2 separate regions of the Homo sapiens genome follow, and region 1 is linked to region 2. Evidence: fine-mapped expression QTL. A gene starts in region 2. The other region holds a variant in brackets. All regions are shown on one strand. Distances are between the middles of the regions.

Region 1 (5,368 bases), 21 kb before region 2:
ACATAACACACGCACTGCTACCTCCCTCTCCTGGAACTGTGGCAGACATTTCTGCTTCATCACTATTCTCATTCCCACCAATGCAGAAATGGCAGTAGAAATCACTATACAGTGCTTCCAGGGGTGCAGCTGGCCTATAAGGAGAAAGTTCTTACACAGCACATGCACAGCCACACCCCTACTACATCCCCTGCAGACATCACCAATTGATCACTGATCTGTTTTCCAGAGATTCCAGATGGGATTCCTGGATTCCTCCTGGATTCCTCCCCCTCATACCACTCTGGGCTTTAAGTAGCAAAGCTTAGCCGGACCACCTATGCAGGCACCATGCCACTCCTGCCCACTCACATAGATCTGGTCGAACTTCCCAAAGTCCATGGTCTTGAAGCAGTCGATGGGCGGGCGCAGGTACTCGCAGTAGGAGCTGGACTTGACAACCTCTAGCTGCCGCACACAGGACACGTAGGCCAGGCGGGACTGGATTTCAGCCATGTCTGGAACCTTTACCTTGTCAGCCCAGGGATTCAGCCGCTTCCACAGCAGCCACCAGCCGGACAGGCTGTCCCCGTAGGTGCTGAGGTCCGTCTCATCCTGGCTCCCCACGTCAATGGCGATGACCGTTTTGGCACCCATGCTGCGGGCGATGTCCGCTGTGGGGCCAGGGGGGTCAGCGGGCTGCTCCCCTCGGGGGCCCGGGGCAGAGATGTTCAACCCAGTCCCACAGATGCCATCATGCAAATGATCACGCAAAAAAAAAAGAGAGAATACCCACACATGCAAACACCATGCTGTCATGCACAGACGTGCAAATGATGCAACTGAAGTTGAGGAGGGGGGTCAGGTGTTGGGAGGTTTTGTTTTATTTTCTGAGACAGAGTCTCACTCTGTCGCCCAGGCTGGAGTGCAATGGCACGATCTGGGCTCGATGCAACCTCCACCTCCCGGGTTCAAGCAACTCTCTTGCCTCAGCCTCTCAAGTAGCTGGGATTAGAGGCATACACCACCACGCCCAGCTAATTTTTGTATTTTTAGTAGAAACCGGGTTTCACCATGTTGGCCAGGCTGGCCTCGAATTCCTGACCTCAAGTGATCCACCCGCCTCAGCCTCCCAAAGTGCTGGGATTACAGGCATGAGCCACTGTGCCCAGCTCAATAAAGCTTTATTTATACAATCAAACAGAGGGCAGGACTCAGCCTGTGGGCCATAGTTTGCCCACCCCTGGCCTACAAGATTGTGAGCATGTGTGCAGTTGGCGTACATGTCTGTTCATATATGCACACTTCTGGGGTGTGAGATTTTAAGTTGTGTACCTGCCCGCTTCTCACCTGCACCCATAAAGGTGGTAGGCATGACTTAACTCGGTCAGAGGTGCCGCATCCTATCTACGTGTGTGCACATCCCTGCGTGTTTGAGGGAACGTGCAGGACAAACGGGACAGACTGGCATGCGTTGGCAAATGCCCTATTTCACTGACACACGTGTTCATCTGTGCACATGTGCCTGTGTGTACACGTGTGTGTAAGCCCTACCTGCCCCTGAGAGAAAGCATGTGCATATATAGCTGGTGTGCACACGAGTGTTGCATTCCACCTGCATGTCCCCTGATGTGTGTGTGGACGTGTGCACCTGTCCCTCTTGTACGTACATCCACTTGTGCTTAACACAGCACGCCAGCAGGTAGATGTAGATTTCTTTCTTTCTTTTTTTTTTTTTTTGAGACTGAGTCTTGCTCTGTCGCCCAGGCTGGAGTGCAGTAGCATGATCTCAGCTCACTGCAACCTCCAACTCCCAGGTTCAAGTGATTTATCTGCCTCAGCCTCCTGAGTAGCTGGGATTACAGGCACACCCCACCAGCCTGGTTAATTTTTTGTATTTTTAGTAGAGACGGGGTTTCACCATGTTGGCCAGGCGGGTCTCAAACTCCTGACCTCAGGTGATCCACCCACCTCAGGCCTCCCAAAGTGCTGGGATTCCAGGCTGAGCCACCGCGCCTGGCCAGAATGTAGATCTCAACTGCACATGTCGCTGTCCACAGGCACATTCATGTATCATTTTGTGCAAGTGATCGTATGTGTGCGCATGTGTGTCTGCACCCCTGCATGGGCAGCTTGGGCATGTGTCCCGTCATCGAGCCTGTCTGTGTGTGCCCACGCGTGTGCGTGTGTGTGGTGCGGGAGGTGCTTGCGTGTGCGGGTGGTGCGGGCGGCCACTTGCCTGGCAGATTGTTGATGTAGCCGCCATCCATGAGTAGGTGCCCGTCCTTGGGGTCGCACAGCGGGGGCAGGTAGCCCGACAGCGTCATGCTGGCGCGCACGTACCGCCACAGGGAGCCTGCGCGGTGGGACACACAGACACAAACACGCACAGACACGCTCAGACACGCCGGAGGCCCAGCCGGCCCGATGGGCTCGCTGACCTGGGACGTTGTTAACGTAGCACCCGTCCACCAGCAGGTGCCCGTCCTTGGGGTCGCACAGTGGGGGCAGGTAGGGGCAGTAGGAGGCGCTGGCCCGGACGTAACGCCACACACAGCCTGCGGGGATGGCGTGAGGGGGGTAAGGCGTCCGACGAGTCTCCCTGCTCCCCTCCCCCAAGGACGGACGTACCTGGGGTCTCCGGGGCATTAGTGGGTGGCGGTTAGTGGTCGGTGATCGGGCCAGGGTGGACGGTCACTCGTGTTAACAACGTCCCAGAAGCTCAGCGGCCCTCCCGGAAGCATCCCCCCAACCCCACGTG[G/A]CGTCAGCGGTTGCTGCAGGCTGGGCGGGGACACCCACCATCTTTGTGGACTCGCATGGCTGAGGCGGTGATATCTGTGGTCACGTTGAAGTAAGGCAGCCACAGGTCCTGCGGGGACAGGGATCGAGGTGGGGGAGGAGCAGGGGGCTCCTCCGGGGAGGGGTAGGCAGGGCAGGGGATGAGGTGGGCCTACCTCAATCTGCTTATCCTGGAAGACCCGATGGATGCTGCGGTTAAAGGCAGACCCAGTGAACATGGAGGTGACTGGGTACGTGAGGTCCAACACAGGTTCCAGCACCGAAGTCATGCTCTAGGGACAAGGGGCCAGACAGGGTCAAATAGGAGTTACATGGGGTCACAGATAAGGTTCATCAATAGGGGGTGAGCAAGCAGCACTTAGGGGCCAGGTGCAGCGGCTCACACTGGTAATCCCAGCACTTTGGAGGCCAAGGCGGGCAGATCACTTGAGGCCAGGAGTTCAAAAGCAGCCTAGCCAACATGGTGAAACCCCATCTCTACTAAAATACAAAAAAATTTGCCGGGCTGGTGGGGCGTGCCTGTAATCCCAGCTACTCATGAGGCTGAGGCGGATAAATCACTTGAACCTGGGAGGTGGAGGTTGCAGTGAGCCGAGATTGTGCCACTGCACTCCAGCCTGGGCGACAGAGCAAGACTCAGTCTCAAAAAAAAAAAAAAAAAAAAAAAAAAAGGAACACTTAGGGATGATGTGGTCATCCAAGGCCATCCACAAGGTGGTCACCAAGGGCCCTGGGTGCTCTCGTTGGGGGTTATGGGTTAGGGTCAGTAGACAGGAGGTCCCAAAGTGGTTACCCAGAGTCCTAGAAGCTTATCTATAAAAGTCCGGACAGCTGGGGATCATAGATTTAATCAGGAAGGGTCACCCTGACCCCGGAGGCTCCCCCATGGGATCAGGTTAGGTTGGAACCACGGGTTTTATGGCACTCCTGGGGTGCAGCAATCCCTCCTCGCAACACACACCTTGGCCCACTCCCGGGCCCGCTGCTTCGTGCGGCTGGCGCTGCGCTCCTCCGCGTACAACGCTCCGATGAAAGAGCCAATGGACGTGCCGCCCACCAGGTCCACGGGGACCCCCGCCTCCTCTAATGCCTTTAGTACTCCGATGTGCGAGCAGCCCCTGCCGGGAAAATGGGCCCCAGTGACCCGCTAGGCCCCACCTGCAGGAACTCCCCTGCCCCTACCTCCTCCCACCTCCCGCACTGCTAAGGAACAAAGGACCCGCCCCTACCCACGGGGTCTCTCCCGGAGGGGAAGCTCCACCCTCGAACACCCAGGCCCCGCCCCCACGGTTTCTCCCAGGAAGCTCCACCCTCGGACATCCAGGCCCCGCCCCCAGAGAGCAAGCCCCGCCCTCACCTGGCCCCGCCCCCGCCTAGCACAAGGGCAATGGTGTTCCCCGTGAGCACCCTCGCCAAGCGGGAGAAGTCGCTGTGCCGGTCCGCGCGCCTGGAGAAAACCTTCTCGTAGAGCTCATGCTGGGATGGGGGAGATAGTCGCGACCCAGGAGCATGAGGGCGGGGTCCGGCGGATCCCCCAGGGGTACCCTGACCTTCGAGCCTGTCCTCAGCCCTCCCAGGCCCCGCCCCAGTCTCCCAAGCCTCGCCCACCAGCCACGCCCCTAGAAGGTGGGGGCCGGCCCGCTCCTCACCAGCTTGGCAGGGCTGCGGCGCGAAAAGAGGCGGCGCGGACAGCGCAGGTGCAGGTGCCCCGAGCACCAGCTGCGCATATTTAGCCACTCCACGGTGCGCGTGGGGCCCGCGCCCTCCTCTCGGTGGAGCAGGACTAGCTGCTTAAGGGCGCGCACAGCCGTGTTCTCCAGCATCTGCTCCAGCTGCGGAATACGGACGGCTGAGGTCACCAGCCGCCCCACCACCACCTGGCCACACCTGGGTCCCTGATCGCCTACCCCCATGGCGAGGGTGCACGTGGCCTGGTGCAGGCACGGGAGGGCAAAGGACGGGACCCGAGGTGGGTGAGATCAGGGGGCACGGGCTTCCGACCTGGCCGAGGGTAGGCTCCTGGTCCCCCAGGCCCACAATGAGGATGCAGTCGGCCTGTCGCAGGCAGCGCACGGTCCAGGGCGTCAGCGAGGCGTCCGTCTGGTAGAGTACGATACGGTGTGCATCCTCCTGCTGGGCCAGCCACCCTGACAGCCGGAACTCTTGGATGCTAGGGTGGGAAGGGGGCAGCGTCATCCTGGGGTTGGCCTGGGGTCAGTGTGCTCCCCGAGACCACATAGCTCCGTTGCTGGGAGGAACTTAGACACCCAAACCCCCACCACGGAAGTCCGTGCTCCGGTGGGCAGATTCACACCACTGCGAATCTCCCCATTGACCTATGGGTAAGACGCAGGCTCCGTGGTTGGAAGCCAAGAACTTGAACTCAGGTCTGAAAGAATTTGAGGCTCCAGGCCCACCCACCACCCTCCCCACTCCCTTCTGCAACACACACCTATCCAGTGCGGAGGCCCCCAGGCGTGCCCGGATGATGTCACTGTTAAGGAGTAGCGTCGGACCTAGGGGTAGGTGGGGAAGGGAGGCTGGGAACCATGGTCCACAGGGCTGGGGCCTAACTCAGAAAAGAATACCC
Region 2 (5,368 bases):
CCTCCGCTGGCAAAAGATCCCTGAGATAGACCTTGGAGGATGGGACCCTGAGTTAAACTCAGTGAAATCAAGAAATTCAGATATAATTCCTTTTTTGGCTGGGCGTGGTGGCTCATGCCTGTAATACCAGCACTTTGGGAGGCCGAGGTGGGAGGATTGCTTGAGGCCAGGAGTTCAAGACTAGCCCAGGCAACACAGTGAGACTCCCATCTCTACAAAAAAATTTAAAAATTAGCCAGGCATGGTGGTGCATGCCCATGGTCTCAGCTACTTAAGAGGCTGAGGCAGGAGAGATCTCTTGAGCCCAGGAGGTAAAGGCTGCAGTGAGCTGTGATTGTGCCACTGCACTCTAGCCTCAACAACAAAGTGTGATCCTGTCTCCAAAATAATAATAATAATTATAATTGTTATGATTATTCCTTTTTTGATCAGGGAGATCTTGGGCTAACTCTTCCCTAGGTCACAGAAAGCTCAGACAGCCCTCTGACAATCATGAAGATATCAGGGTAGTCCCTTAAGAGTGTGCAAACACTACAGACAGCTCCTGTGATGTGGAGAAACCTGAGGTATAGACCCTCAACTGATCATGGGGAACTTTGAGATAGTCCTTCTACTCAACTCACAGAAAGCCCTGCCATTGGCCGGGCTCAGTCGCTCATGCCTGTAATCCCAGCACTTTAGGAGGCCGAGGCGGACGGATCACAAGGTCAAGAGATCGAGACCATCCTGGCCAACATGGTGAAACCCCGTCTCTACTAAAAATGCAAAAATTAGCTGGGCATGGTGGTATGAGCCTGTAGTCCCAGCTACTCGGGAGGCTGAGGCAGGAGAATCTTTTGAACCGAGGAGGTGGAGGTTGCAGTGAGCCGAGATCGTGCCAGTGCACTCTAGCCTAGTGACAGAGCAAGACTCCATCTCAAAAACAAACAAACAAACAAACAAAAAAGAAAGGACTGCCATTGCAGGACTATTGATCATGGAGAGCCCTGCCCTGGTGTGAAGAAACCCTTGAGGCAGACCTCCAGGTAGACTACATGACGCACAGGGATCCCAGAGCCAGCACCCAACTTGCAAAGAGAGTTGGAGAGCCTTTCTCGCAGACCTTGCTGCCAACAGGGATCTCTGATGCATCCTTCCTATATTTCTAGTGCAAGAAAATTCATAAGATAGCCCCTAGGGAACAGAAACTCCTGAGACAGCCTCCTTAGTGTGGGAAGAACTTCAAGGTCCATAACATAGGAAAGATGCCTTCTGATGTACAGAGATGCCTGAGATAACCCCCGGAGAAGAGAGGCTGGAGGCTGGAGATAGCCCCTTTAGGAGATCGTAGAAACACAATTACCTCAGTGAGGTACCCTGGAAGAAAACCACTCATGTGAAGAGACTCATGAAATAACCTACATGGAAACCCCTGATGTAGACCCCCCCACTAAGTATATGGCAAGACCTCTGAGATATTGACTTGGGAACAAATAGCTCAGATACTCCAGTGGAAGGAGAAGGTCACTGAGGTAGCCCTCAGGGAAGAGATACCCTAGAGACAGCATGTCTGGTGTGGAAGAGCTCTGAGAGGAGAGTCCAGAGATGTCTCTCTGAAACAGGAAGACTTTCTTCTTCTTCTTCTTCTTTTTTTTTTTTTTTTTTTTTTTTTTGAGACAGAGTCTCACTCTATTGCCCAGGCTGGAGTGCAGTGGCATGATCTCAGCTCACTGCAACCTCCACCTCCCAGATTCAAGTGATTCTCCTGTCTCACCCTTCTGAGTAGCTGGGATTACAGGCCCATGCCACCACGCCCAGCTAATTTTTGTATTTTTAGTACAGATGAGGTTTGCCATGTTGGCCAGGCTGGCCTCAAACTCCTGATCTCAGGTGATCTGCCCGCCTTAGCCTCCCAAAGTGCTGGGAATTACAGGCATGAGCCACAGCGCGCAGCCAATATGGGAAGACTTCCACAACACTTTGGTGTAAGCTGATTACTCAAAAGGCCCCTGAGATAACCCCTAATACCAGGTCACACCCAGCACAGCCTTACTTCTTGGCAATGTTGAGCATCTTCAGTTTCTTCCTCATGCGTGGCCGGGAGGTGGCGGAGACAGAGGTATCCACGAGGGAGGAGGTGGATTGTGACACCTGGGAGAATGAAGGCGGAGATGGGTGAATTGCTAATTCAGACCTTGGAGAAGAGGCAGACGGATCCAGGGGGTCTCCATCAAGGAAGGAGCGGTGGCGGACACTAAGAAGTGTAAATAGGGAAGGGGCGCGGCCTCTGTGTGGTCAGGGCGGACCCCAGGGGTCCCGGACTCACCTTCCGCATAATCTTCCGGCCATAGAAGAGCACTTTGTCCCTCTTCCGGAACCGATACCGGGGGCCATCCGGGGCTGGGGTTTCTGGGGATAGGTGGGGACAGGGGCACTCCGAGCTCTGTGCAGACTCCACCCTGCCAGAGCTGGGGTACCGCGAACAGACGCCAGCAAATCCCCATCTCTGCCGCCTCGGGACCCGGGCATTTGGGCCCCCCACCATACAGCCTCCCAAGAGGGGCCCCTCGGGTGCTCACTTGGCACTCGCAGCCTCCGCACCACCAGGAGGATGAGCACGGCCGTGACCACCACCGCCACTCCGGCCCCGATCATCACGCCAAGCACCTGAGGGACGAACGGCACTGGCTGCGCACCGCAAATCCGTCCCGCCGAGCCTTCCCCGGGCGCCAGGACGTCCTGGAACCCATCCCTCTCCGCCACCTTCGCCCCCGAGGAGTTCGTAGCCAGCCCGTGACTCGATGTCCCCATCTGCAGAATGGGCCAGTGCTGCTCCCTCCCCGGGGGCGCGACTCTTCCCTGAGGCCCGGCGGCCCGCAGTGCATGCCGGGAAACGTAGTTCCGCCCGAGCGGACGCAGCGCGTTATCGCCAGACCACGTAATGCGCGCTGAGCACGCCGGGAGTTGTAGTCCTCTTGGCGCCCCACGCCGGCACCTACCCGGTCTCCGCCCCACCCCTTACCATTCCAGTTTGCAGCGGAGCCTCCATCGGTTGATTCCAGCTGGACGGCCGATCTGGTAGCCCGGAGTCCTGGGAAATCAAGGAGTCGAAGGAACCCGTGCAAGTCGTCAATCTGGGCCCACCTCTCCCCTGCCTCAAGCCCTGCCCCCAGCTCAAGCCCTGCCCTCTGGGGTGGCGGGGGAAGCGTCTCCAGCTGCCAGGGGCGAGGCTAGAGGGGCGCTGCGGGACTAAGGGATGGAGCAAACCGACCTCTCGGCCCTGGCCAGGAGATGAGGCGGGTCCCCGGCTTCCTGCTCCCTTCGCCTACGCGTAGGGCCTACCAGACGCCCGCCTGTCCAACCCCACCCCGGGGCCAAAGGCCGACCTGGTACCCACTGTCAGCAGCCTGCAGGCAGGTCCCCACAGGGCACGGTCCTCTGCACCTGGTGACTTCCTCCCGGGTCACTGCCCTCTGCAGGGTTGATCAAGCCTGACCACCCCACCCCCCAGGCCGCACCCCCTACTCCGTCGAAGACTGAATGCCCCACCCCAGGAAAACGGGCCCGCAAACCGTGGGGTCCGGGAGTGGGCACCTAGATACTCGGCTCCCGACGCAAGCCTGCCCCGGGGAAGACCCAGGAGCTGGGAGGCACGGGAGTACTGCCGGGGCATCCGCGGAAGGCGTCTGATACCCACGTTTCAGAAGAGTCCTGGGATGCTTGGGGTGGCGTGGGCTTGCAAGGCGCTGCTGGTTTTTGCCGGGGATTTACTATCACGTAGTAGTGAAGTTATGGGGGCTCTATGGCACAGAGCATCACTGGGACTCCGGGACCGATGGTGGCGCCATTGCTGGGAGGCGTAACCAGAGACGCTGGGATTAGTGGGTGGGGATGCGGGGTCACTGGAAAGTTACTGAGATTCTGAGGATTACAATACTACTGCTGGGAAAACCAGGAGGTGGGTGGGCACATTCCTGGGGTGCTTATGAGAGCGGGCCTGGGGAGGGCGTCCGGGCTCCTTGGAAGATACTGAGAGATGCTGGAATATTACTGGGATTTTTCTGGGAAGCTGAGGATGTTTCTGACATCGCTAGAATATTAATGGAAATTCGGGGGCCGGGAGATAGGAATCCCGGAGACTCCGAGTCGTTACTTGGAAAATTCCTGGGTGGCCGGTCCTCTTCCACCTCAGGGCACAGCTGGCTACCGGTGTGGAAACACCTGCCGAGACGTGGGGGGTATGGGAACATCAGAAAGTCTAGAGTTAACAGGAATCGGAGGACAGATCGTGGGAAAGCGGAGGCTCGCTAACGACCCTCGAAGGGACACCCCTGCGAGGCTAACGGAAACCCAGACTCACCCAGGGGCCGCAGCCGGGGTCCACTCCGCGCCAACACCGCTAGCGTTCCGCCCGGCTCCGCAGGCACGGCCCCTTTAAATTATTCACTCCTAGTCGCACCGCAGTCCCTCCCGACCCTCCCACCCCTCCTCCCCGCGCCATGCTTGGAAGGCCGACTGAGGCCGCCATGCTGAGTGTGGCCGCGCCTTAAAGGGCCTCACACCGCTTAACGCAAGGACTGCTCCTCCCGCTAAAAATGAAAACGACACATTTATTTTCCCTTTTATTCAACACCCTCCCCACCCAGTCTCCCCGCCCCCAAGGGTCCGACACGAAAGGTCCAGGCCCTCCTCGGGCGCGACAGGGAGCCGATCCTTAAAAGCAAACCCTACAAATAAATAAGCGGGGTCGGGGGCGGGGGTCTCTGCAGTCCAGGGCCTACGGTCCAACGGCAGTCAGGTCGAATCAATTCACCAGCAGCGAATGCTCCTCCGAGGGGTCCCTGGAGGAAGGAAGCAGGGAAGAGGGGCGTCAGTTTTCTCTGGCTCGCTCCCCTTTCCCCATTCCCTAACCTCCAATCTGAATGTGCCAGACCCGGGACTCGAACCTTCCGCAGCAGCAGAGAAGGCTGCAGGCCGAGCCGCTCCCGCGGCGGAACTTGCCGGAGGTGGGGCTGTCCTGGCACTGTGCGATGTAGGCCTGCAGCTCGCTCTCCTCTGCGCCTGCGCCGCCGGGATGCTGGGGAGAGAAGCCGGGAGGCTCAGCCTGAAAGTGGCTCCCAACCTCCAAGGCCCTTGAAGTCCGCCCTCCCCTCCAGCCATATCTGCATCGCTTCCCACCTCCGGGCCTTTGCACTTGCTGGGCCTGCTCCACCCGTTGTTCCACAGTTTGCTTGCACAGAGGGACCTTCCCTGACCCCTGAACCTGGATACAAGCTGTGTCTTTGCCAGTCTGTGTCTTTGCCTTCTGCTGTAGGTCCAGCACCTACAGACCTAGAGCCAGGGCTGACATGACCTCGATGCTCAGAAACCATCTATTGAGTGAGCTGGA

Evidence for each region. PIP is the estimated chance that this variant, and not a neighbour inherited with it, causes the effect. A credible set is the group of variants that fine-mapping cannot tell apart.
Region 1: its variant is the best candidate, but not a certain one, in a credible set for the expression of PNPLA6 in testis (GTEx, PIP 0.81).

Annotation. Positions count from the first base shown.
Region 1 is chr19:7,554,135-7,559,502 of GRCh38, reverse strand. PNPLA6 (patatin like domain 6, lysophospholipase) reads right to left here. Exons shown (of 32, transcript NM_001166114.2): 20 at 5,231-5,294; 21 at 4,780-4,948; 22 at 4,428-4,610; 23 at 4,136-4,254; 24 at 3,740-3,896; 25 at 2,934-3,050; 26 at 2,779-2,848; 27 at 2,219-2,335; 28 at 352-653. Among named protein-coding and RNA genes, the nearest start is that of PNPLA6, 21 kb to the right of the region's middle. The variant G/A (reference allele first, on the strand shown) is at 2,741.
Region 2 is chr19:7,533,211-7,538,578 of GRCh38, reverse strand. It overlaps PNPLA6 (patatin like domain 6, lysophospholipase), which reads right to left and starts at 2,862. Exons shown (of 32, transcript NM_001166114.2): 1 at 2,559-2,862; 2 at 2,306-2,388; 3 at 2,033-2,130. The coding sequence starts at 2,790. It overlaps MCOLN1 (mucolipin TRP cation channel 1), which reads right to left. Exons shown (of 14, transcript NM_020533.3): 13 at 4,926-5,056; 14 at 4,570-4,820. The coding sequence ends at 4,784. RefSeq lists an enhancer at 2,788-3,027.